Linked DNA regions of Homo sapiens: all the other regions are linked to region 2. The links come from fine-mapping of genetic effects on gene expression. A gene starts in region 2. Each other region holds a variant in brackets. All regions are shown on one strand. Distances are between the middles of the regions.

Region 1 (8,515 bases), 75 kb before region 2:
CCCAGCTACTCGGGAAGCTGAGGCGGGAGAACTGCTTGAACCCGGGAAGCGGAGGTTGCAGTGAGCGGAGATAGCGCCACTGCACTCCAGCCTGGGTAACAGAGCGAGACTCCGTATGAAAAAAAAAAAGAATCTTTCTAGATCTCGGAGGCTGAATTATACTGCCAGGACCAAGAAAAATGGCCTCCACGTTCCCTTTCTTCTAGTTTACCGTTGTCTCCTCTGGGAGATTACCCCTAAGAGAGAAAGGAGGAGAAAAAAGGTCCTGTGTTGGATCCTTTCTTTCCCATGCATATTGATGGCGTACCAGCAGGTGGCAGTGTAACACCTTGCATGATACATTTCAGGCCCATGTTTTTTGCTGAGAAAAGCAGTGGTCAACGTTTGGTCTTTGCTTGGAGTTTATGAGACAATTATAGGATTGTGGTGAAGACAGCGCAGTTAAGGCTGAGGTGGGTATTGCAATATAAATCTCTGTCTTCACTTTTAACATATTTCAAACTGTTTTTTGGATTGCTTTTTCACATTTAGTTTTTCAGCTCAAAAGAATCATAGAATTAAAAAAGACATGAAATAATGTACATTTCCAGTTATTATTAAATGTTCCTTACTTTTCTCCTCTTTCTTCCATGCCATTAGCTCTCTGACAAGCATAACTTATGTAGTTGAGTGTTACTGAGGAACACTTGGTTTGCAAAATATGAAACTTTTGTTGAGCAACATTTATGACAGGCAAGGTTTAGAATTTCATGCTATAAGCCTATGGCTTCTTCATTTTCCATAATTAAATAACTTCTGAGAATGTGACTTCTCAGAAGGATGCATGAGAATTAAAACCAGCAGCTCTCAAAGATCAGATATCCACAGTTAAGAAAAACCCTTGAAATAAACACTTACATGGGTCAGTTTTTCCTTCTGACAAACATTGGCTTATTTCAACCTAATAGAATAATTAGATAATATCTAGCTTATTATAGGATTGTAATAGATTATTATTTTTGGCAAAACGACATCAGATAATATACACATGCTTCTTTAAGAGTTTTTAAAATAAAAAAATTGTAGAAATTAGTAAGTAAAAACTAGGCGCTTTCAATACAAATGTCAAAAAATGAAGGATTCTGATTTGTATTTGTTAGAGTCACTCATTAACGTCTCATGTATTTAATACATTAAATATTTGCTGGGTGTTTATTCTGGGATGAGCATGAGGGGACGTTGGTCTTTTTCCTGTCTCTGGACTGGGCTTTACACCATCGATTCCCCTTGTTCTCAGGCGTTCAGACTCAGTTTGGAAATACACAAGAGCTTTCTTGGGTCTTCAGTTTACAAACGGCTGACTTCTTAGCCTCTATAAGATCATGAGCCAATTCCTCATAATAAATCTCCTTCTTTCTGTCTCTGCCTATATCTATCTACGATTGGCTCTATTTCTCTGGAGAACCCTAATACAACCAGACACAAAAGGACAAATATTGTATGATTCTACTTATATGAGGTACTTAAGAGTAGGCAAATTCATAGAAACAAAAAGTAGACTAAAGGCTAGGCATGGTGGCTCATGCCTGTAATCCCAGCACTTTGGGAGGCTGAGTTGGGCAGATTGCTTGGGCTAATGAGTCTGAGACCAGCCTGGACAACATAGTGAAACACCATCTCTATGAAAAATACAAAAATGAGCTGGATGTGTTGGTGTGCGCCTGTAGTCCCAGCTACTTGGGAGGTTGAGGTGGGAGGATCACTCGAGCCCGGGAGGCAGAGGTTGCAGTGAGCTGAGATCACGCCACTGCACTTCAACCTGCGGGACAGAGGAGACCCTGTCTAAAAAAAAAAAAAAAAAAACCAGCAGATTAAAGGTTATAGCGGCTGTGGGGAGAGGAAATGGAGAGCTATTGTTTAATGTGTACAGAGTTTCTGTTTGGGATGATGAAAGAGTTCTGGAAATGAATATGGTGAAGGTTGGTTGTGTAACACTGTGAAGGTACTTAATGCCACTGAGTTATATACTTCAAAATGATTAATTTTTCTTTTTTTCTTTTCCTTTTTTTTTGAGAAAGGATCTCACTCTGCCCAGGCTAGAGTGCAGTGGCGTGATCATAGCTCACTGCAGCCTCAGACTCCTGGGCTCAAGCCATCCTCCCATGTCAGGCTCCTGAGTAGCTAGGACTACAGGTACCACCACCATGCCAGCTAATTTTGTTTTTACTTTAATTTTTATGTATAATAGACACAGGGTCTCGCTATGTTGCCCCGGCTAGTCTCAAACTCCTGGCCTCAAGTAATCTTCCCTCCTTGGCCTCCCAAAGCCCTGGGGATTATAGGTGTGAACCACCGAGCTCTGCCCTAAAAATTATTTAAATAGTAAATTATATATTATGTATATTTTACCACAATAAAAGAACATTTTTTTAGGCTAGGCACACTGACTCATGCCCAGCACTTTGGGAGGCCAAGGCGTGAGGATCAGTTGAGCCTAGGAGTTCAAGACCAGCCTGGGCAACATGGTGAGACCCCATCTCTACAAAAAAAAAAAATTAGCTGGGTCTGGTGGCATATGCCACTGTGCTCCCAGCTACTTGGGAGGCTGAGGTGGGAGGATGGCTTGAGCCTGGGAATTTGGAGCTGCAGTGAACCATGATCACAGTACCACACTCCAGCCTGGGAGACAGAGTGAGACCCTGTCTCAATAAAAAGGGGGTTTAAAAAAAAGGCAGAAAAGTTATAAGTGTTCATAGGAGAGTTCTGAGCAAAAGGAACGACATAATCCAAGGCTCAAGGGGCAGGAAAGATTGAGGAGGATATATTTTGGGAGAAACTTTAATCTCAGAAAAGCTCCCAGTTACCCTGACATGCAATTTTGGCAATGCAGGCTGGCAGGGTGATGGGGCAGATCTGGAAGAGAGGTTCTGAGGCAGCAGAGCCAGGGCTCAGCGCGGACACTTAAGTAGCTCAAGTCCTGCGATCTCTAGGACCCAGTGTCCTTGGGCATGGGTCAGGTCGTTCAGTGAGGTCCAATTCAATGAGCAGAGTCCTATGCTTCGGAAATTGAGTTGTTAGTCTAATACAGAAGTCAAGAGGGCTGGGAAGGATCCAGCTTGAACCTGGCTAGACTTGTGCAGAACACCAAGCCATCATTTCTGCCAGAAAAACGTGAAGAAAAATAGAACACAAAGAGCAGAACGAACCCACAAACTAGGCAGATTGCTC[G/A]TCTGGAAGAGGGTTGGCAATGCTCTGGAAGGAAGGCTCCCTCCTGACTTCCTCCTGGCTCCCTGGCTCCCAGCACTGACTGACAGGGAAGGCTACTGGGCAGGGCCATGCTCAGGAGCACAGGAGATCTGACCAGGCCAGTGGACTTGGGTCCCTGAGAAGCATAAGCCAATCCAAAACACTCCAGAAGTTGGGTGCAGGCTGCTGATGTACCTCTGTCAGGGCTACCTCGCCACCTGAGGAGCTGCATGGAACTAGAAGAGACCAAGGCAAAAGAAACGAAATGAAACTGATAGGATCATGGGAAACATACAGGGAAAAAATGGGAGAAAAGGTTGCAGGGAAGGTTAGGGCCAGCTTGCGGACAAATTCAATGCCAGGCTAAAGAGCCTGAGTAGAATTCCATGACTAACAGGAAGGTAGAAATCTCTTGAATAGAGAAGTGATATAAAGAAAACATTGCCTTTAAAAGATTCATCCAGACTGTGTGCGGTGGCTCACACCTATAATTCTAGCACTTTGCGAGGCTGAGGCAGGCAGATCACCTGAGGTCAGGAGTTCAAGACCAGTCTGGCCAACATGGCAAAACTCGGCCTCTACTAAAAATACAAAAATTAGCTGGGTGCAGTGGCGCTGCCTGTAGTCCCAGCTACTTGGGAGGCTGAGGCAGGAGAATTGCTTGAACCCAGGAGGCGGAGGTTGCAGTGATCCGAGATCATGCCACTGCACTCCAGCCTGGGTGACAGAGTAAGACTGTCTCAGAGAGAAAAAAAAAAAAAAAAGATTAATCCAGCATGTAGGATGGTTATAAATATAAGAGTCTATAAGTAGGTGGGAGAAAATAATAGCCAGAACTAGAATGGTGAAGTTGAATGCAAGATTCAGATGTATAAGTTATTTTTTTGTTGGAGAGAGGGAAGTATGCCACAATTGTATTTCCATGTTTCAATTGATTGCAGTCACTTAAAAATAAAATGTATTAATTTATTTTTCATTATAACTATTATACCCATAATAGGAAATTTGGAAAAATAAAAAAAAATAGAGGATAAAAAATAAAATTGTTCTCAGTCCTTTTTGCACCAGTATAGCCACTATTGATATCTTGGTATATTTCGTTCTTGTCTTTTTTCTTTACCTAATTATTTACATTGTGTTTTGCTTGTGTGTTTTACTAGTTGTGATTATGTTATGTATACAATTTTATATCAGTTTTTTTATTTAACATGGCCTTATTACGTAATAAGAATTAAGAATACAGACGTCGGCTGGCCATGGTGGCTCACGCCTGTAATCTCATCAGTTTGGGAGGCCAAGGTGGGCGGATCACGAGGTCAGGAGATCGAGACCAACCTGGCTAACACGGTGAAAACCAATCTCTACTAAAAATACAAAAAATTAGCCAGGCATGATGGTGGGCACCTGTAGTGCCTGCTACTCGGGAGGCTGAGGCAGGAGAATGGTGTGAACCCAGTAGGTGGAGGTTGCAGTGAGCTGAGATTGTGCCACTGCACTCCAGCCTGGGCGACAGAGCAAGACTTCATCTCAAAAAAAATAATAAATAAATAAATAAAATAAAAAATAAAAGAATACAGACATCTATTAAGAATACATGGCAGAACCAGACTGCCTGGGTTCAAATGCCAACATCTGCCATTAACTAGCTGGGTGACAACCTCTCTATGCCTCAGTTTACTTAGCCATAAAATGGTAGTAATAATAGTAGCAGTCTCATAGAGTTGTGGTGAGAATTAAATGTATTACTATATGGAAAGCCTTTGGCATCTGGCATATAGTAATTATATGTGTTGGGCATTTTACTAAGTTATTGTAAACGTGTGTTGGAATGGTTTGAAGATTTTCACTCAACATAGAAAGTAGGGAAATTTACAAAGAGTGGTGGTGCCCTTAACATTTACAGGAAAGAAGGAAGGATGGTTTGGAAGGTGGCAGGAATAGATGTGGGTTTAATTGTATCAAATTGAAGTTACAGGCAAAGAGAACAGGTGGAAGTATCTAAGAGGGCTTGAGATACAATACAGAGATTCAAAAGAGAGAAGTTATAACCAGACATCTGGATTTAGGGAACATCTGTCTACAGGTGACAGTTCATATCATAAGAAAAAAAATGAGATCACAAAAGTGTTGAGTTCAAAACTTTGGAGAACACCCGCATGCAAAGACTGAAAGACGGAAGTGGAACTAGGAGAGATGGAAGAAGAGGTAAAAAATCAGAAGAGGAAATGAGAAAGATAGGGAGGGTGTGATGGAGTTTGTTCATGGAAGCCAATTGATGTGGCTGAATCTCACAGTGTAACACCTTTGAACCCCTGGAGTCCTAAATGGGCAGTGGGCAGGAGCCTCTCCTCTGACCTCTTCCCCTTTTCCAGGGCAGAGCCTGGAAGGGGAGCATTAGAACACAGAATCACCCAGCCTTACGCCTTTCTCTCCTCTTCTCACAGTTCCCCACCCACTGCCCCCTTCTCCTGCTTCCTGGCTTGGTCCCCTGGAGCTCTGCTAAACCTTACATTGCTTAGGGCTTTCTCGCACAATAGACCTTTGTGAGCTGATTCCATAGAGCCTAGCGGATTAAATGCAGGGATGGAGGTGGGCAAGAGTAGGGGCTACAGGGGATGACCCATGACTCTCTTTAGAAATTGTTGCCATTCCTTTGATGACAACCATCTTTTCTTCTTTTTGAGACAGGATCTCACTCTGTTGCTCAGGCTGTAGTGCAGTGGCACAATCACGACTCACTGTAGCCTCTACCTCCTGGCCTTAAGCGATCCTCCCATCTCAGCCTCCCAGATAGCTGGGACTACAGGCACACATGACCACGCCCAGCTAATTTTTGTAGTTTTTGTAGAGACAGGGCTTTACCATGTTGCCCCAGGCTGGTCTTGAACTCTTGGGTTCAAGTGATCTGCCCGCTTGGCTCCTCAAAGTGCTGGGATTACAGGCATGAGCCACCATGCCCGGCCTGCTTTGGTGACAATAATCTTAATCTCCTTCCAGGTTTACAGATCCCTCAGGACAACTAAAGCAAGGGTTCATGTACTAAGCAGGGCAAAAACGTGGCATATTAATTTTTACGACAGTGCCTCGTAAAAGAAGGGTATATAATTGGAGGTACAAAGTAGGGTAAAGGCACAGGAAAAGAGGCTTGGAAAAGAGGAATGACAACTTCTAAATATAGGGAAGACTGAACATACCTCAACATTTTGAAGCAGAGGAGGTCAGTTGGAGGAGTGGCTGTGAGATGACTCAGCGGGAGTGTGGACAGACTTGAAGTGGTAAAGTGCAGGAACCCTGGAGACAGGCATTTGGGCTTGAAATTCCAGTTCAGCCACTTTCTATCTGTGATGCCTTAAGAAATGTCCTTAATTTCTGTATCTCAGTTTCTGTGTATGTTAAAAAAAAAAAAGTGACATTGACATAATAATATCTACCTCATGGGCTTGTTATAGGGATTAAATGCATTACTATATCTACATGTGAACTATATTTGCTCTAGATAATTAGGTAAAGGTGTGATAGGTGACCTTGGCAAAATGCAGGGGGTGGAGGCAGAAGAAACTCCATCCAGCAATTGTTGACAGCATTTCAGGCAGCCAGAAATTTAGCGCTAAGGAGACTCAGTGCCTGCTTTATTTTTCTCCGGTTGCCTTATCACCAACTGATTATGATTTTTTTTTTTAACGTTTTTTTGTGTGTGGGGGGGAGAGAGAAACACATGTATTTTAAAAGTCTTCACTGTTCTGAGAATCTTTTTGAATGAGAATGAGATAGTTCCTTTTATCTTCTAGAATCCAAATAAATTCTTCGAAAATTCTTTCTGATATTATTGCACATCTAGATGGGTTACTTCCCACCACTTTACCCCCTCTCTCTCTCTTCACTGGAAACTATAATTTCAGTAGTTGATTGAAAAGTTGATCAGCAAAGCCACATAAATGAAGAAGGACTTTTGAAATAGCCTCCAAATATTTTTCTGGCTAGGCACTAAGGAACACAGTTGACAGCTGTGTAGTATTTTCTGCTACAGGAATAACATTCCAACATCAAGTTAAAACTAATGCAACAAAAATATTCAATACTAAGAGAAAGTCACATGGCGGATTGCACCTTTAAAAAAAAAAAGTGTTTTTAGGCCGGGCGCGTTGGCTCATGCCTGTAATCCCAGCATTTTAGGAGGCCAAGGCAGGCAGATTACTGGAGGTCAGAAGTTCGAGACCAGCCTGGCAAATATGGTGAAACCCTGTCTCTACCAAACAAACAAAAAACTAGCCAGGCCCAGCTACTTGGGAGGCTGAGGCAGGAGAATTGCCTGAACCTGGGAGGGGGAGGTTGCAGTAGCTGAGATAGTGCCACTGTACTCCAGCCTGGGTGACAGGGACTCCGTTAAAAAAAAAAAAAAAAAATTTCAAGTAGCATTTAGCTGAGTTCCAGAATAAAATTTCTCCTGTGTGCAGACAGAACTTGTGTAGTTGTAAGGTCTCAGAAGGGTAAGTGCACCTGAATGGTGAAATGCTAACCATTTGGAAATATATTGATTATGAATTTATGTATTATGCATTATATTATATATTTATATATTTTATGTATAATACTTGTACCTATATATTTATATCATAATTATAATTATCAGCCTTCCACAACTAAAATGTAAGTTATCAGAGAACAAGGATTTTGCTCTGTTTTATTCACAATTAACACAATAGTTTAAAAAGTAAATGACTAATAGAATACATTAACTTGTAAGGAAACTTGTTTATAATTGAGCCTGAGTTCCACAAGATGCCAGGGTAGCTTTGGAGGGGCGGATGGGATGGGGTGGCGGTGCAGGAAGGGCTGTGGGGTGAGGTGGGGTCTGTGCTGGGCAAAGAGAGGGTGGATGGAGAAAGGGAGGAAGCCAAGGGTAGGAGTTCAAGCTACAGAGATGGAAACTGTGTTCTCATTGGAATGTTCATGGGAGGATTTAGTGGGACCCAGGTCAGGGAAATACATTCCTGTTTTGTTTTTTTTTTTCCAGTTTTGTATCTCTTCTGCTGTTAATTTTTTGAAAATGTGCATTTGTCTATTTTAAAATATAAATTGTCCATAATGGTCTCTTATTTGTCTAATCTATTCCAATGATTTTGATTTTTTTCTTACAATTTTTCTTCTTTCATTTATGTTTTTCTCAGTGACAATTTCATAAATTAGACTATGTCGATGGAGGAGTTTTCTTATTCAAATAACTCCATTCGAATGTATTTGTTTATTTAAATGATGGCCTGGTTTGTAATTTTTCATTCATAAATTCTTT
Region 2 (8,515 bases):
ATAGATTTGGCAGGAGCATTTGCTCTTTGAATACATTGATGTCAGGAGGTACACTTCAGATAGGGAAACAGGAAATTACTAGAAGACCTGAACAAGAATGGCAACTTGAAACTGGAACACACAAGGGTACTGGGTGTCTGGAAGCCAACTGAAGTAGAAAGATTTCCAGAGAATGTGGGAAATTACCATCCAAGCCTTCGGCCTTGGCCTCTAGGTCTCCAGTTTACTATAAACAGCAGGTGAAGACTTTCAGTAACTAGAAAGGAAGCCTCATTGACTGGCGATTGAAAATGTCAGGGGTGCAATGAATGCGTGTCTGGTAATCTGCCCAGTGTGTCTTCTCTGGGAAACCTCTGCTCATAAACAGGGATGGGCCCTGGCAGCCATACTGGTCCCCTGCAGCCCCCATCATCTATGATTAGGGTTAGGGTTAGGCAGGTGATTTAGTCCTTGTGGGTGCAGCTCTGGAACATCATTTCTCTGACACTGGGACATAGGAGCCAGGGGCTGGTTATCAGAATAGGAGAATAGAGCACAGGTGTAGAGAGAGCACCTGCTATGGAAAAAAATTCCATTGAGTTCCTCCTGGCTTTTCAGGTCTGCGATCTGGGTCTTCCTGAGGACTAACTTATTTTTGCCTTTGGGTTCTATTATACATCTATCTAATCTATCAATCAACGATCTATTATCTATCTATCAACTATCTATTATCTATCATCTATCTATCAACTATCTATTATCTATCATCTCTCTCTCTCTCTCTATCTATCTATCATCTATTTTAGAGACAGGGTCTTACTCTGTTGCCCAGGCTGGAACGCAGTGGCAAAATCTCTGTTCACTGCAGCCTAGAACTCCTGGCCTCAAGCAATCCTCCCACCTCAGCCTCCCGAGTAGCTAGGACTACAGCTGCACACCACCAAACCTGGCTAATTTTTAAATTTTTTGTAAAGATGTCTTGCTATGTTGCTCAGGCTGGTGTTGATTTCCTGGCCTCAAGTAATCTTTCCACCTTGGCCTCCAAAGTTGTTGAGATTATGGGCATGGGCTACTGTATGCAGCCTCTTCTGTCTATCTAATGAATTTCTGTCCTCTATTAGGGTGAAGAGATAGCTTTTCAGTGGCTTTGAAGCATTGTGCCAAATATTTCAAAGATCACATTTTAAAATCTACTTTTTGATTTATTTAGTTGCTGCAAATTTTGACTTATCTGTCACTAATCAGCTGGATGTACTGAGATACTTTGACATTTCCTAATGTCTGGTGCTTTCTCTTTCTGGCCCTCCATAGTGAGGGCTGGATCTCTTCCCTTATAGGTATCTGCTAATGCTGGAGGCTCAACTGATAAAGTAAAGATAGCCATCCCAAGAAGCAGGCGGAAAGGCTGGGGCTAATAGAACAGATCTCTACTCCAGGGGCTTCAATTCTGCCCTAGTTCTGGTCAAATAGGATTAATACTGCTCACCGTTACTATCCTAAAAGGGCTGTCATGGTTGAAAGTGGGCATTTACTATTTTCAGTGTCTTTTGTTGCTGGAATAAAGGAGATGATAATATGAAACAAAAATCAGGTTGCTTCTCCTCATATTTTGCTCAGCTCCCAAGCATTCAGAATGTCGTTACTAATTAGACATTTGTTTCAACATTCTGGGGCCATCCAGGCTAGGCAATCTTGTGATGTGGGGAAAGTTGACTGGTTATGCAATGGCTTTGCATTAGATCCCCTGCTCCCTTGCAGGCGCTGAATGCTCTTCTGTTGTTCTCTGGATCTAGAACCCTGTCCCTTTTCTCTGGGATGGCTCCTACTGATGTTTCAGCTTATTCCTCATTTGCTGCAGGACAGTCTCCTTGGCCCCATAGTACTCTTGATTTCCCCATCACCTGTGCAGTAATAGTTTCTCTATAGATCCACCAGTCTTGTCTTATTCATTGTTATATCCACAGATCTAACCTATTTCTAGTAAACAGTAGGTTCTTCCTAGATCCATTCCTGATGATTGGCTTAATGAATGAATGCTCATTTTACTGGTGACTCTGAAAAAGGAAAAAAAAAAATAATGATTTTACTCCACTATCAGCAACTCGATGTTGCCCGTCAGGAATCCTTGTAACAAAATACAAAGTTACCATTGCCTACGAGGTCCTCACCTCCTTCTCCAACCTGTCTAGTAGCACTCTCCTTATGCACCATGATACCCATGCTGGCTTTCTCTCTGTTCCTGCTATACATCACTTTTCTTCCTACTTCAAGTCCTTTGTTCTTGCTATTTTATCTGCCCTGGAGTTTTGCTAAGTTGGTGTTTTCTTATTTAGGTGGTGCCTCAAATCTTAGAGCATTTCTCTTAGATCATTTCTCCTTAAAGCATTTTTCTCCTTTCCCAAAATTAAGTGTGTCTCCCATCCCTCTGGTCACTGTTTTCTTCTTTGCCCTGATCCCGGTCTGGAAGTTTATCTTTTTATTGGATCATTGTCCATCTTCTGATAAAAACAGCTGCAAGTCTGTCTTGTTCAAGGCTATACTCTGAGTGCTTAGTAGAAAGCCTCGTTCATTGCAGTATCTAGTATTTGATGATTAATATTGATTACGTTTGATGAGTAAATGAATAAAAGAATAATCTTAGACATACATTATTTAATCCCAGTGAAAGAATGTTAGTGATGGAATTTCAGGTGTTATTGTAGAAGAAACTTTTGAAGGGTATTCCCTACAGTTTGTTCATACTAGGCTAAGTTCCTCTTCTTTTCCTTACACAATGTAAAAATATTAGATCTCAAAACTATTTGCTCAAAGTACTTACTTTAGGACACGTATTTTTAGACTACAGTTTAGAATTACAGTTATTATTAGAAAGGTTTGGTAAAAACTCTTTTTGTTAGGCAATAAGGTTATTCTGTCCTCCAAAGACCTTTACTTTATTCTCAGGAAGTAAGAGAGAAAAAAGAATTTCTTGTCTTCTTTCTATCAGGTGTTTTGCCCTTACTTCTCTTTAAGTTTATGTTTACCTTAACATTCCTTTCCTTCCTCAGGTTTGCTTTTTGTCTATCTCCATTTTTCACTATTACGTAATTCACGGAGTTGCTGGGGGGAAGTGCTTAATTTCAAATAGCCTGTTTTAGAACTTTGCGAGAATGACAAGAACAAACAGAATGTTAAGGCAGCTAGAGAGAGTTAAGTGAGAGTGGTCCCTAGGTGAGAAATGCTTCTTGCCTTCTAGGCTGACACCAGTTCTGGGGGATGTGTTCTGAGAGCTCATATTAACTGCAGGTCATTGATCCTTATCTCAATCCCCTTCCTCTCCCTTCAGCTTTCCATTCAAAGTCTCTATCACATCTTGAAGTGTTGTCACATTATTTTTTTTCTGATGATTCCCTCCATCAGCTGAGCTTTCCAATTTATATTACCTGATTTTTTTTTGTCTTCTGCTTTTTACTACCCCTTTTTCTAAAGCTTTATTGATTGTGTACTTTGGATTCTAATTCTTCCTATAAGAGTCTTCCTGTAATTCTGTTTGCAGTGTAGTGCTGTCCACATTATGTGTTGGTTACATGATAGGAAGGAGTATGGGGGCACCTCGGTCACATATGTAAAGTTCTTTAAGAGAGCTGAAGGGCGCTGATACCAGTTCATGTTTTTTCGGGGTAGCCCTCAGATATTAAGCATGTTTACTGTATTTTCTTCTATTGTGAAAGAATCAGTTCTCTGGATTTCCTTAAAGTTTGTCTTTACCATTCTCCGCACCCTACTCATTTTTCTATTTAAGAATTTTTTTTTCTAATCATGTAGTACATGTTCAATATGGAACACAAAAAGGTAATAAGAAAAAGTCACCTACAGTGTCGCCAAAGGTGAAAACACCTTATGTCTTTTTTCGTGCATAACAATATCCCTCTCAATCTTATGCAGCATTTTTAAACCTAGGAGACTTGTCTGAATCCAAAGGAAGTTAAAGATTACGTTATTCACCAAGTTCATACTGAAATCAGAGAATCGCAGCGGCTTAAGAAAACTCGCATCTGGCGAATGAACCTGCGTATCCGGGGTTCTCCTCAGGGAGGTTGCTCGTCCATGAAACACACTCCAGTCTGCAGCCACCTGGGAGTGGGAACCAAGGGCGAGCGAACCGGGCGGGCAGGGGTGGAACTTGCGGGGACTGCGGGTATGAGGAGGAGCTACAGAGCTGTCACCAATCAGAGCCCAGCTTTGTTTTCTCTTGCCGACCAATGAGGGAGTTCTGCTGGAGAGGCGTCTTCAAGTCTGAGACGCCTATCGCCTTCGCAGCCTATCAGCAGGCCCCTCTTACCCGCGGGCGGTGCAGCCCCGCCCCGCCCCTCCAACCGCGGTCCCGCCCCTCCGAGGGTGGGGGCCGTGTTGGTTACTAGCCGGGCTGGAGGCGGGGGCCGGGCTCCCACTGGGCTCGTGCGTTCTGCGCCCGCCGCGGCGGTGCCGAGCCCGCTGGCTCCCGATTGTCCTCTGCGGCGGTGGCGGTCGCTGCCTCCTTGCCTCCGGGCCCGGGGCTGCAGGGGCCAGAGCGAGTGCGCCTCCTGCCCGCGGACCGCGGCAGCCCAGAGCAGGTAATGGGGCGCCTCTGGGGAGCGCCTGTCGGAGCCCAGGGCTAGGCTCGGGCGGTGGGGTCGGCCCCCGAAGCTGCTCCCTGCGCCGGCGACCGGGCCGAGCGGTGCCGCGGTCCTCCGGAGCCTCCTGCCGGCCTCTAGGCGCCTCAGCCTGGGAGCCCGCGGCGGGCACCTTGTGAGGAGGTGGGGGCGGGGCCGGGGCAGGGGCGGGGCCGCCTCGGGCGGGACCCTGAGGACCCCTGGAGACCCCTGTTGACGCGCGGGACTCCGGGCGGGGGCGGCGGCGGGGCAGACCCAGAGCGGGGAGAACCGACAGGTGGAGGAAAAACTGCGGAGTTGAGTCAGAGTCCGGCTCCCCGGGGAAAAGAACCGACTGAAAGGGAGCGATAAGCTGGCTGGCTTCTTTTTTTTCTTTCCCTAAGCCAGAAAGGCGTCTTCACTTGGGTCGTGTTAATTACATGTTTTCTGAGAACAGGCGTTTGGCCGTGTAATCTACACGATAGCATTATTTATTTACTTATTTGCTATTTAAAAAATTAAAAGCAGCATTTAGCGTGAATCTATTTGGGGGCTTTTTCTTAAGTGACAGGTAGACCCAGCCGAGTAACTCAGCTTTGTCTGGGCTGAAGTGGGGAGCGGTGAGGTAGGAATGAGGGGGAGGAGTGTTCGTGAGGAATGCCTGTGCAGGTTTGAAAGGATTGTGGGGGTGGGACCTTGTTTCTGTCACTGTGCCATGGGTGGGAGTAGAATTGTGATTTTTTTCTTTTTCTAATTTTTAAAAGCAATATTCACATTTAAAAAAGGGGGGGCTCTCTAAAAACAGTCTCTGTACTCGAGGCTTTGGGGATGCACCTGCTAGTCAGGCAGTAATAGTTTGCAGGTAAATCCTGGGCTATTAATTACGTAATTTGATTTACTTATAAAGAAGTATCTTGAATTGTTGCTGCCTTTCCTTTGACTTGCTCAATATATTGCTTGTTTACAAGTGAATTGATGAAGGTCACTGAGTTTTAGCGGTAATGTCACAGCGATGGCCCTTGGAGAGTTTTCTATGCTCAGGTTCACTCTGGTTCTATAAAAACAGTATTTCCATTTAATCGTGAAGCTCATAGCACTCTATCAATTATATAGTATGCCATCCTCCTACTCTTCTGAGGCAGGCTGTGCATAGCATGTCCATTTTACAGGTATGTCAACTGAAAGCCCTAGAAATGAAAGGAATCCTGCCCCACTTTACTCCTACTTTATTTTATACCTATAATGGATTTAATCCAAAATCTGGGTAAGATTCCCGCCATCAAGCCAACTTCTGCATACCAATTTGATCCCGTATACACAGGTCAGAGGTGGAGATGGTTATTTTCAAGTAAAGAAATATTATCTGCGAGGTTTTTCTTTCCATTCAGGTTGCTTAGCTAGTTTGAATTTCAGGTGAAAGGTAATTTTCCACACAGGCAAAACAAACAAAAGTTAGGAATGCTGTGTGAAAATCTCTATTTTAAATTTTGGGAAGCTTTCCAAATTAGAGAACCTTATTTGTGTTTGCATCTCTAGCTCAGCATTGAATTTCGGTACCTTTTTTTGAATTGAATAGAAATAATTGATATGCAGAAGGAAAATACTAATGAAGTGTAATGCATTTTGATCATGACTTATGACTTTGTTTCGGGAAGTGTTTACTGTAAATTTATAGACGGATTGAAGAATAATTTCTTAATTAGAATAACTTGACCAAAGGAGTTTGGGCATTAGTGTGGGACAGGCTGAAATGGGTAGTTGGGAGTAGCCGCTTGTATGATGTTAAGGCTTAGGGAATTCTAGAGAATCGTTAGGTTTTGTTAAATTTACTAGTTATCAGGAACATGAAAATGTCTTATGGATTACTGAATGGAACTCTTTTTTTTTTTTTTTCTGAGGTGGAGTCTCACTCTGTTGTCCAGGCTGGAGTGCTGTGGCTCACTGTGATCTCTGCCTCCCTGGTTCAAGTGATTCTCCTGCCTCAGCCTCTTGAGTAGCTGGGACTACAGGCGCATGCCACCACGCCCAGCTATTTTTTTTTTTTTAATATTTTTGTAGAGATGGGGTTTCACTATGTTGGCCAGGCTGGTCTCGAACTCCTGACCTCAAGTGATCTGCCTGCCTTGGCCTCCCAAAGTGCTGGGATTACAGGCGTGAGCCATTGCACCCAGCCTGAATGTAACTGTTCTAATCATGAAGTTATCTCTTGTTTTGTGGCTAATACCTCTGTTTCACATGTACATTTTAACATATTCATGTAACATATAAGGCAACTCTTCTTACACAAGGCTGTCACTCTAGCCCAGCATTTATTTACTTATTTATGTTTTAGTGGCTTTATTTAACTTTTACTCTCCTGTCAAAATTTCTAGCACCCAAGCAAAAATTTCCATAAAGGAACTTTTATCATCTGTTGATTATACAGAAAATGAATCATTTATTCTCATAAGCCCAGCCCTCTTGCATTGTGGGACACTGGAAAGATATTTTGGCTGTTTGTAAAGTATTTGCTTGTATTCTTACCTGAAGCTTTGACTTCTCCCCCTCCCCCAATGGTTTTCAGAGTTTCTGTGACTTTTTTCTTTAAATTAATTATGACACTACCTGACTTCCACTAGATGGTGCACTGGGGGGCGCTTACTGGAGATTTCAAACAGATTTTTGTTTTTCCTTGTTATAAACATTTCACTGACAAAGATACAAAGGTACTGCAGCTGTTTCTCTCCTAATTGCAATTCAGACAAAATTGTAATGAATGACTTAAGTCTTGAGTTTTGGCCAGGCATGGTGGCTCACGCCTGTAATCCCAGCACTTTGGGAGGCCGAGGCGGGCGGATCACAAGGTCAGGAGATTGAGACCATCCTGGCTAACACGGTGAAACCCTGTCTCTACTAAAAAATAGAAAAAATTAGCCGGGCGTGGTGGTGGGCGCCTGTAATCCCAGCTACTCGGGAGGCTGAGGCAGGAGAATTGGCCTGAACCCAAGAGGCAGAGCTTGCAGTAAGCTGAGATCGTGCCACTGCACTCCAGCCTGGGCCACAGAGCGAGACTCCGTCTCAAAAAAAAAAAAAAAAAGTCTTGAATTTTGTTAAATGAGATACATTCGGAAGGAAAGGGTATTCCTTCATTTTGAATTTAAAGTGAAGGAAATTGTTAGTCAGGCTTGCTCTCTGAAGATACTGTGTTTTTTACAAACTGAAGGTTCGTTGGCAACCCTGCAAGTCGATTGGTGCTATTTTTCCAATAGTGTATGTTCATTTTGTGTGTCTCTGTCATATTTTGGTAATTCTCACAATATTGCAAACTTTTCATTGTTATTCTGTCTGTTATGGTGATCTCTGGTCAGTGATCTTTGATGTTACGATTCTAATTGTTTTGGGGCTCCATGAACTGCACCTATATAATATGGTGAACTTAACTGATAAATGTTACATATGTTCTGATATCTCCACCAACTGGCCATTCCCCAACTCTCTTCCTCTCCCCAGGCCTCCCTATTCCCTGAGACACAACAATATTGAAATTAGGCCAATTAATAACTCTACATTGGCATCTAAGTATTCAAGTGAATGGAGAGTCGCGTGTCTCCCACTTTAAATCAAAAAGCTACAAATGAGTGAGCTTAGTGAGGAGGTCATGACAAAAGCTGAAACAGGCCAAAAGCTAGGCCTCTTGCACCAAACAAGCGAGCTCTGAATGCAAAGGAAAGGTTCTTGAAAGAAACTAAAAGTGCTACTCTGCTGAACGTCCAAATGATAAGAAAGTGAAACAGCCTTATTGCTAATATAGAGAAGGTTTTAGTGGTCTGGATAGAAGATCAGACCAGCCACAACATTCCCTTAAGCCAGCAGAGCAAAACCCTCTCTTCAATTCGATGAAGGCTGAGAGAGGTAAGGAAGTTACAGAAGAAAAGTTGGAAGCTAGA
Region 3 (8,515 bases), 520 kb before region 2:
CATATTGTTGAGTTTGGCCTGTTGTTGAATCATATATAAGTTCCGCAATTTAGGGCTTTTTTTGTTTTGCTTGGTTCTCTTTTTTCATACACTTTGTTCTTGACCTGTATCGAGTATAGGTTTTTCATTTTCAGTGATATAAAGTCTACCATTACTTAGTATACATCAATATACTTATCCATCCTGCCATCACTGGACATTTGAGTTCAGGTTGTTTTCTTTTTAGAATTATCACAAGCAATATTGCTATGAAGAATCTTATGCATGTCTCCAGATCAAAAGTGGTGCAAGAGTGTCTTTAGGGTATATATTAGGTTGAACCACATGAAATTGCCATTTTTGTATGTCACAGACAGTCTAATTACTCGCTTACAGGGTCGGCATGTGTTTGACTTAATTCCTAATAAATTATTTTATAAAATGGTTTTATCAACTTGCACAAACACAGCAGTGTTTGAAAGCTCCCTTTGTTCCACATTCCTGCCAATACTTGGCTTTGCAAGACATTTTGATTTGGGCCACTGTAGAGGATGTGTAGTGATGTCTCATAGTGGTTATCATCATCCTGATAACCAGTGAGGTCGAGCATTTTTCATTTGTGTATTAGTTATTTATGTCTTCCTCTAGGTCATACCTGTTCATATTTTCTGCCTTTTTTTAAATTGGAGTGTTTATCTTTTCCTTATTAATTTATAAACATTTAAACAGATGAGTATTCTGTATACATATTTTTATATAAAAGGTTGAGTATTCTGTGTATATAATATACAGAATATACTTTATATTACAGAATACTCATCCTTTGTCCTTTATGTGCTGGTATATCTCAGATTATGACTTGTCTTTTCAGTCTCTCATTGATGTCTTTTGGACAGAAGATCTTGATTTTATTGTGATTGAATTTATTGATATTTTCCTTTATGATTTGTGCTCTCTGTGCTTGTTAAAGAAATTCTGCTCTACCCCAGGGTCATAAAGATATTCTTTCTATATTTTTTTCCAAGTACTTTAAAATTTTACCTTTCACATTTTGGACTGTAATCCACCTTGCCCTCTGACTTCAGCATTGTCATCTGAAAACAGACTGTGAGACGGCTTTCGTGATTTTTCCCATACACATGACCGACTGTCCTGGTGCCCCTTGTTGAATAATCTGCCATTTGTACACTGATCTGCAATTATCAGCTTGGTCGTGGATCAAACTGCTATATTTGGCAGGCCTTTTCTTGGGCTCTGTGTTCCATTCCTGTTGTCTCTCTGGGCTAATAGGCACTATCTTAATTGCTAAAACTTTATAGTAAGTCTTGATATCTTGTAGACGTCAAGTATCTTGTAGATAATCTTGATATCTTGTACATGTCCCACCTGGTTCTTTTCAAGATTGTCTTGGTTATTCCTTGGTTATTCCTATCAATTTACTCTTCTATTTAAATTTTATCACCATTGCAGTGGCTCACACCTGTAATCCCAGCACTTTGGGAGGCCAAGGCAGGCAGATCACCTGAGGTCAGGAATTCAAAACCAGCCTGGCCAACATGGGGAAACCTCGTCTCTACTAAAAATACAAAAATTAGCCAGGCATGGTGGCATACACCTGTAATCCCAGCTACTCAGGAGGCTGAGGCAGGAGAATCATTTGAACCCGGGAGGCAAATGTTGCAGTGAGCCGAGATTCAGCCTGGGTGACACAGCAAGACTTTGTCTCAAAAAAACAAATAAATAAAATAGATTAAGTTTAGAATTTGCTTATCAAGTTCTGCACAAAATATCCTTTTGGCATTCTTACTAAAATTGCATTAAGTATCTTATCATTTTGGGTAGAATTGCCATTTTTATTATGTCTTTCTACCATGAATATGGTTCTCTCTCCATTTATTTAGCATTTTTATTACAACTGAATACAATTGTATAATTTTCTGCATGAAGGACCTGCACAGCGTTTGTCAGATGCATCTGGGTTATCCTGCCTTTGCTTTCCAAGTGTACCCTCCATCCTTCCTACCATGTCATGTGCCCAGGAGACTGACTCTGTGGACAGCATCGACAGGCTCTCTGGATCCTGACTCCCTGGAATGTTGGAAGTAGAAAGCAATGGGTGGGAGATCAGAGGGCAGAAGAAGAGTGAATTGGAGGTCAGGCATGGTAGCTCATGCCTGTAATCCCAGCACTTTGGGAGGCCGAGCCGGGCGGATCATTTGAGGTCTGCGGTTCGAGACCAGCCTGGCCAACATGGTGAAACCCCGTCTCTATTAAAAATACAAAAATTAGCCAGGTGTGGTGGCGCACATCTGTAATCCCAGCTACTTGGGACGCTGAGGCACGAGAATCGCTTGAACCCAGGAGGCAGAGGTTTCAGTGAGTCAAGATCGCACCATTGCACTCCAGCCTGAGTGACAGAGGGAGACTCCATCTCAAAAACAAAAAACAAAACAATAAAATAGAAAAGCCATGCATAGCGGCTCACGCCTGTAATGCCAGCACTTTGGGAGGCTGAGGCGGGTGGATCACCTGAGGTCACGAGTTCGAGACCAGCTTGGACAACATAGTGAAACCCCCGTTTCCACTACAAATACAAAAATTACCCGGGCATGGTGGCAGGCGCCTGTAGTCCCAGCTACTTGGGAGGCTGAGGCAGGAGAATCACTTTCAACCCAAGAAGTGGAGGTTGCAGTGAGCTAAGATTGAGCCACTGAACTCCAGCCTGGGTGAAAGAGGGAGAGACAAAGTCTAAATAAATAAATAAATAAATAAATAAATAAATAAATAAATAAAAAGAGTGAATTGGGTCTTACTTCCCAGCACCTTCTCTACCAGGCAGCCGGTAGGCAGTGACTGTGCTCTTCTCCTGAAACAAACACCTCCCGCTTGCAGCTCCAGCTAAAGCTGAAATTCGCTCCAGCTTCTGCTTCCCATTCTTGCCTCCCAGGCCTGAGGGTCCCTGGCTGTTACTTGCCCGGGGGTTTGATCATCTTCGCTGGTATCCCTTCGCCCCGCCCAGACCTTTGCAGTCATTCAACTGCGTTGGAGTTGCCACCTATTTCCTGTAGAGACCCTGCCTGATACAACTGTGAGTGTGTGAAATTTCTCATGCTTTGTAAATTCTTTCGCGTTTTCTACGTAGAAAACCGTATCATCTGCAAATAGTAATATTTTATTTTTTTCCTTTCTGATTCTTACACTTTCTACTTTCCTTACACCGGCTTGTGCTCCAGAGCACTGCTGGTCTGCAGCGGCAAGAGCAGCCACCCCTGTTTCATGCCTGATTTTTAAAGAGAAGGCTTTTCATAATTCTCTACTCATAAGATGTTGGCTGTCGGTACAGGGATTTCCATCCTAAACCTTGCTTGCTAAGATTTTATCATGAATGGTTTATGAATTTCCTCAAATGCTTTTTCTGAATCTATTATGATCACAGGATTTTTCTCAAGACTACTGATATGAGGTATGACATAGTACATTTTATAACGCTAAATCAATCATTCTAGAAATAAACAGTACTTGTTCATTGCTTGCTATGGTTTGCTATTTAGGATTCTTGTCTTTAGATTGGTCTGGGGATCTTTTTTTCTCCTAAATGTCCTTGTTTGCTATTGGAATCTGGATTACATTTGTCTCATAAAATAGGTGAAAAATGTTCTGTCTCTTTCTATTCTTTGAGTTTGTATAAGCTTGAAACTAGCTGTTCCTTGAATATACAGTAGAAACTACTTATAAAAACATCTGGGATTGGTGTTTATTTTGTGGGAAGATTTTTAACTACCGACTCAAATTCTTTAAAAATTATAGGGCCCTTCAGGTGTTTATTACTTAAATCAGTTTTAAAATTTATACGTTTCTAGGAATTTTTCCACTTAACCTAAGTTTTTAAGTATTTGACATTAAGTTGATCATAGTATTCCCGTAAAATGTAATCTCTGCTGCATTAGCAGTTATGAACTTCATTCATTCAGATATTGTCATTTCTCTTTTTATTGATCTTACAAAAAGTTTGTCATTTTAAGCAGCTTTGGCTTTGATAATTTTGCGTCTTTGTTTCTTATTTTATTTCTTATTTCTATCTTATTATTTCTTTCTTCTTATCTTCTTAAGATAGATACATAGCCTTTCTTTTTTTTCCAGGTAAGCATTTAAGGTTAGAAATTATACTCTACAATATGACTTTAGCTATGTCTGCCAAGTTTCAACATATAATATTCCTGTTTTATTCAATTTTTACTATTTTCTAATTTCCACAATGGTTTCCTCTTTGAGCCATGGGTCCTTTTTATGTTTTATTTATTTATTTAGAGACGGAGTTTCACTCTTGTCGCCCAGGCTGGAGTGCAATGGCACGATCTCGGCTCACTGCAACCTCTGCCTCCCGGGTTCAAGCCATTCTCCTGCCTCAGCCTCCCGAGTAGCTGGGATTACAGGCGCCCACCACCACACCCAGCTAATTTTTGTATTTTTAGTAGAGACGGGGTTTCACCATGTTGGCCAGACTGGTCTCGAACTCCTGACCTCAGGTGATCTGCCCGCCTCAGCCTCCCAAAGTGCTGGGATTACAGGCATGAGCCACCACGCCCAGCCCATGGGTCTTTTTTAACATTACATGATAAGAGATTTATTTTAAGTTTATCTTTTAAACACTGATTTCTGGTTTATTTGTATCGTGCTAGGGACTTTGAGATTTGTAAGCTTGCTTTATGACCTGTTAAGTATAGGTGTCCCTCAGGGGCATTGGTTCCAGGACCCCCGTGGATTCCAAAACCCAAAGATGCTCAAGTTCCTCATATAAAATGGGAGTAGTGTTTGATTATAACCTATACACATCCTCCTATACACTTTAAATCATCGCTAGATTACTTATAGTACCTAATATAATGTAAATACTATGTAAATAGTTGTTATATTGTAGTTTTTAATCAGTAGTTTTTCATTGTTTTTGCTTTGTTATTATTTCATATTGTTTTGTTTTCATTGTTTTATTGTTACCTTTTTTTTTTTTTCAAACACTTTCTACTCAAGATTGATTGAATCTGAAGTTGTGGAACCACAGATACAGAGGGCCAACTGTCATCAATTTATAAATTGGCCTATGAGTACTTAAAAAGAATGTGTATTGACCAGGAACTGGGCACATTTTACACAGACACACA[C/T]ACACATACATACATATATATGTATGTACATTTCTCAGTAGATTAATATTGGTAATTGTGCTGTTCAAATCATCTATGTCTCCAATGATTTTTTAGTGAATCTATCACTAATTCCAAGAGAGAGATGTTTTAAAACCTCGATTTATCCTTAAAACTGTTAACTTAGGCTTTATATGTGATTCAGTGCCTACAAATTTAGAATTGTAACTTTCTGTTTAATTGAAACTTCTACCATTATGTTGAAACTGTAATAAATTATTTTTGCCCTTAAGCTAATTTGTCTTGACATGGTCCTATCTGCCAAGTCACTGAAGGCATCAGCATCCTGTGCTAGTTAAGTAATAACTGGAAATCTGGAATACAGAACCTGTCTTTTAGTAGCCACTAAATAAATTATTGTTGAAATAGTGAATGAATGGATGAATGAATACACCCAACTGACTGCCTGAATAGACAGTCAAAATAGCTTTCAGCTGAAGAGAGAAATTATATTCCCACCCACTTGTTTTTCATCCTCAAGCAAAAACCACAATACTGTAGCCAACACGAGAGTCTGTCCAATCAGTGCATTTCACCAGAGAAGCAATCTCCCCCTCCCTTGCAAATGGTGATTTTAAGGAAAAACCTTAACACTCTTTCTTAAGGAAAGTGCTTGGATAGGTTGGAAATTGAGTAAAGCTGTCAGTGACTCCACAGGGGGGAAAAAAGTTATATTTGCTGCCCCTGGTTGAAAATCAAAACAAACTTAGAATCAAACATTTTTATGGTCTGGAAAATGTGTGCTTGAGAAGATGCAGAGGAGTCCAGCAATTAAAAGGATATGAAAACATTTCATTTCTCTTGCATCGAATTAGTTTGCTGTTTGCAAATTTCAGAGATAAAATCACGTGGGTTTTCAGATCCTGTGTCTTATTGTAACAGATTTCAGGGGTGCAGGGTGGAGAAAGAGAAACAAAGACTAATGGAGAAGAGAAAAATAGAAGGAGTCAGACACAGAGAGAGGGAGAGAGAGGAAGACAGAGAAAGAGAGAGAAAGTTAGAGGCAGAGGCAGAGAGAATCCGATGGTGTACGCCCACTAAGAAACGTGCTCCCAACTGGCAAAGGGAGGAAAGGAGAAAGAAACCCTCCACCACTGAAGTTTATTTGCCTCACTTCTTTAGCTCTGGAAATAATAGATAAGGAGGAAACAGGGGGACTGGAAGGCGGGAGAGCAAAGGGAGGTTGTAAAACACTTTAATACATTAAGCTGAGGGAGGATTCCAGTGCTGGCGCTGAGGTTTCTTTCATTGATTAAGACCAGTGCCGACTAAAAGGGACAAGAGGGCGACCCCACATCCTCTCCTTTCCCTCTACAACTCCCTGTCCGTCTTTCACCAGCTCTGTCAGCCTGCATGTAAAGAGGCCTTCATCATATCTCAGAGTCCCAGCCCGGGAACCAGAATCAAGAGTTCATTGCCCCTCTGCCTGACAGGCCTCGCATTTCAGCAGTGTCAGGAAGCAGATGGAGATAACCCTTGCTTCCAGCAGAGAAGAGCAGAACCTGCAAATTTACATTCAGAGACCCATCTCATCCAACAGTCATCGTGGGGATTCCATAACACTTGATTTCTACCCAAAGAGAGCACTCATCTCAGTCTTGCTCTGCTTAAAGTAGGGTTTGTTGTGCACTTGTCTTTGAAACCCCAGCCTCTCCACTCTGCTGCACCTATGCGGCATTGCCTAATTCATTCATTTCAGGCTTCTCTGAAGCCTGACCAACCAGAATCTTGTTCGTAGAGGAAGGACTCTGTAAATTTAGAATTGAATTGAAACTGGGGCCAAGTAAGGGGTTGCATAGCTCCCTAGAAGTAAAGCTTAGATCTTCTGGGGTCTCACTCCAGGGCTCTTTCAACCTGACCACACCCCTATCGCTCAAAAAGGCAGCTAACTTTTTCCTTCTTCCAGACAGCAAGTGTCCACTAGCCTGGCGTCAATAACAATCTATTATTCAAATGACTCCCTGTGTTCCTATTTCCCTAGTTGTTCATTCTGGTCTCTTTCTTCCTACTTTGCAATGTCTAGAAACTATTACTGAGTTTATGATACATAGAGGAGATCATCTCCTGAACTGATCAGGCTTGAATGTGTGCGTGGATAAGACACACAGATCATCTTTATCGAGGGGGTTTGACTTAAGAATACACAAGAAACTAGGACAGCCCAAAAGCAGGCTCAAGCAGCAGTATAGACAGGCAAATCGTGGTGCTTCCAAGTTCATGACATACATCAGGCCCTGGGGAGAGCTGAAGCAGTGCTGGCTTAATGCTGCTCAGAATCCAACCTGAGCTGTAGACCCATTTCATGTGATTTTCCTGGCCCAAGAAGCCAGGTCAGTTTGCCGCTGTCCAGTAAGGAGTCATCCCATTGGGCAGGATGTTTTAGCTGTTAGGTCTCCTTTGTATGTATGTATGTATGTATGTATGTATGTATGTATGTATGTATTTATTTTTAGATACAGAGTCTCACTCTGTTGCCCAGGCTGGAGTATAGTGGCACAACCATAGCTCATGGCAGCGTTGAACTCTTGGGCTCAAGCGATCCTCCCACCTTGGACTTCAGAGTAGCTGAGACTACAGGCATGTGCCACCACGCCTGGTTAATTTTTTTTTTTTTTATTTTTTTTGTAAAGATAGGGGCTTGCTATGTTGCCCAAACTGATCTTGAACTCCTGGCCTCAAGCGATCCTCCTGCATCAGCCTCCCAAAGTGCTGGGATTACAGGCATGAGCCACTGTGCCCAGCCAATCTCCCTCATTTAGATCCTCAGGTTCTAAACCCATATCAGTCTCCTGAGTCCTGGACAATAACTTGGTACCTGGGAAGGAAGGCTGGCACTTAGAGTGCCTTACTCCTCTCCAGGACATCTCTCCTAACAAGTAGAAACTATTTTTTCAACTTTCCCATAAGCATTATTAATCTGTTTTCTTCCCAGTCTCTTTCAAGTTGTTATTCAACTCTTCTTTCCTCAAGCTACTCTGTCATTTACTACTCAATAAAGTCGCTCAATTTACTTACTGTCTATTCTGCCAATCAATTTCTAAAAGGTCCTTCCTCTCATTACAACAAAGCACTACCCAGAAGCTCCGGTCCCTACTGTCTTCAGGAATTTCTCATGCCATGTCAATGTCCTCTTCCCATCATGCCAACCCCATCTCAGAGATCTGCAGATCTGAGTACACATGGCATAAAGATGGCAACAGCAGACACTGCAGACAACTAGAGGGAGGAAGAAGAGATGAGGAACGGGTTAGGAAACTATACCTACTGGAGACTGTGCTTAATACCTGGGTGACAGGCTCAATCATTCCCCAAACCTCAGCATCACGCAATATACTCAT

Alleles and levels. Positions count from the first base shown, and alleles are read on the strand shown. Sizes are in standard deviations (SD) of each study's normalised expression. Not every link is listed here.
In carriers of allele C in region 3, the expression in lymphoblastoid cells of the gene that starts at base 4,368 in region 2 tends to be higher than with T alone (large effect, 1.3 SD a copy in GTEx).

The links. PIP is the estimated chance that this variant, and not a neighbour inherited with it, causes the effect.
Region 1: its variant is fine-mapped to the expression of MPP7 in cerebellum (GTEx, PIP above 0.99). The same link has a PIP of 0.9 or more in cerebellar hemisphere.
Region 3: its variant is fine-mapped to the expression of MPP7 in lymphoblastoid cells (GTEx, PIP above 0.99).

The regions. Positions count from the first base shown.
Region 1 is chr10:28,373,862-28,382,376 of GRCh38, reverse strand. No RefSeq gene overlaps it. Among named protein-coding and RNA genes, the nearest start is that of MPP7-DT, 75 kb to the right of the region's middle. The variant G/A (reference allele first, on the strand shown) is at 3,208.
Region 2 is chr10:28,298,917-28,307,431 of GRCh38, reverse strand. It overlaps MPP7 (MAGUK p55 scaffold protein 7), which reads left to right and starts at 4,368. Exons shown (of 17, transcript NM_001318170.2): 1 at 4,368-4,571. MPP7-DT (MPP7 divergent transcript) reads right to left here and starts at 4,263. Exons shown (of 2, transcript XR_930772.3): 1 at 3,003-4,263; 2 at 1,161-2,033. RefSeq lists a silencer at 4,182-4,821.
Region 3 is chr10:28,820,943-28,829,457 of GRCh38, reverse strand. No RefSeq gene overlaps it. Among named protein-coding and RNA genes, the nearest start is that of C10orf126, 21 kb to the left of the region's middle. The variant C/T (reference allele first, on the strand shown) is at 5,139.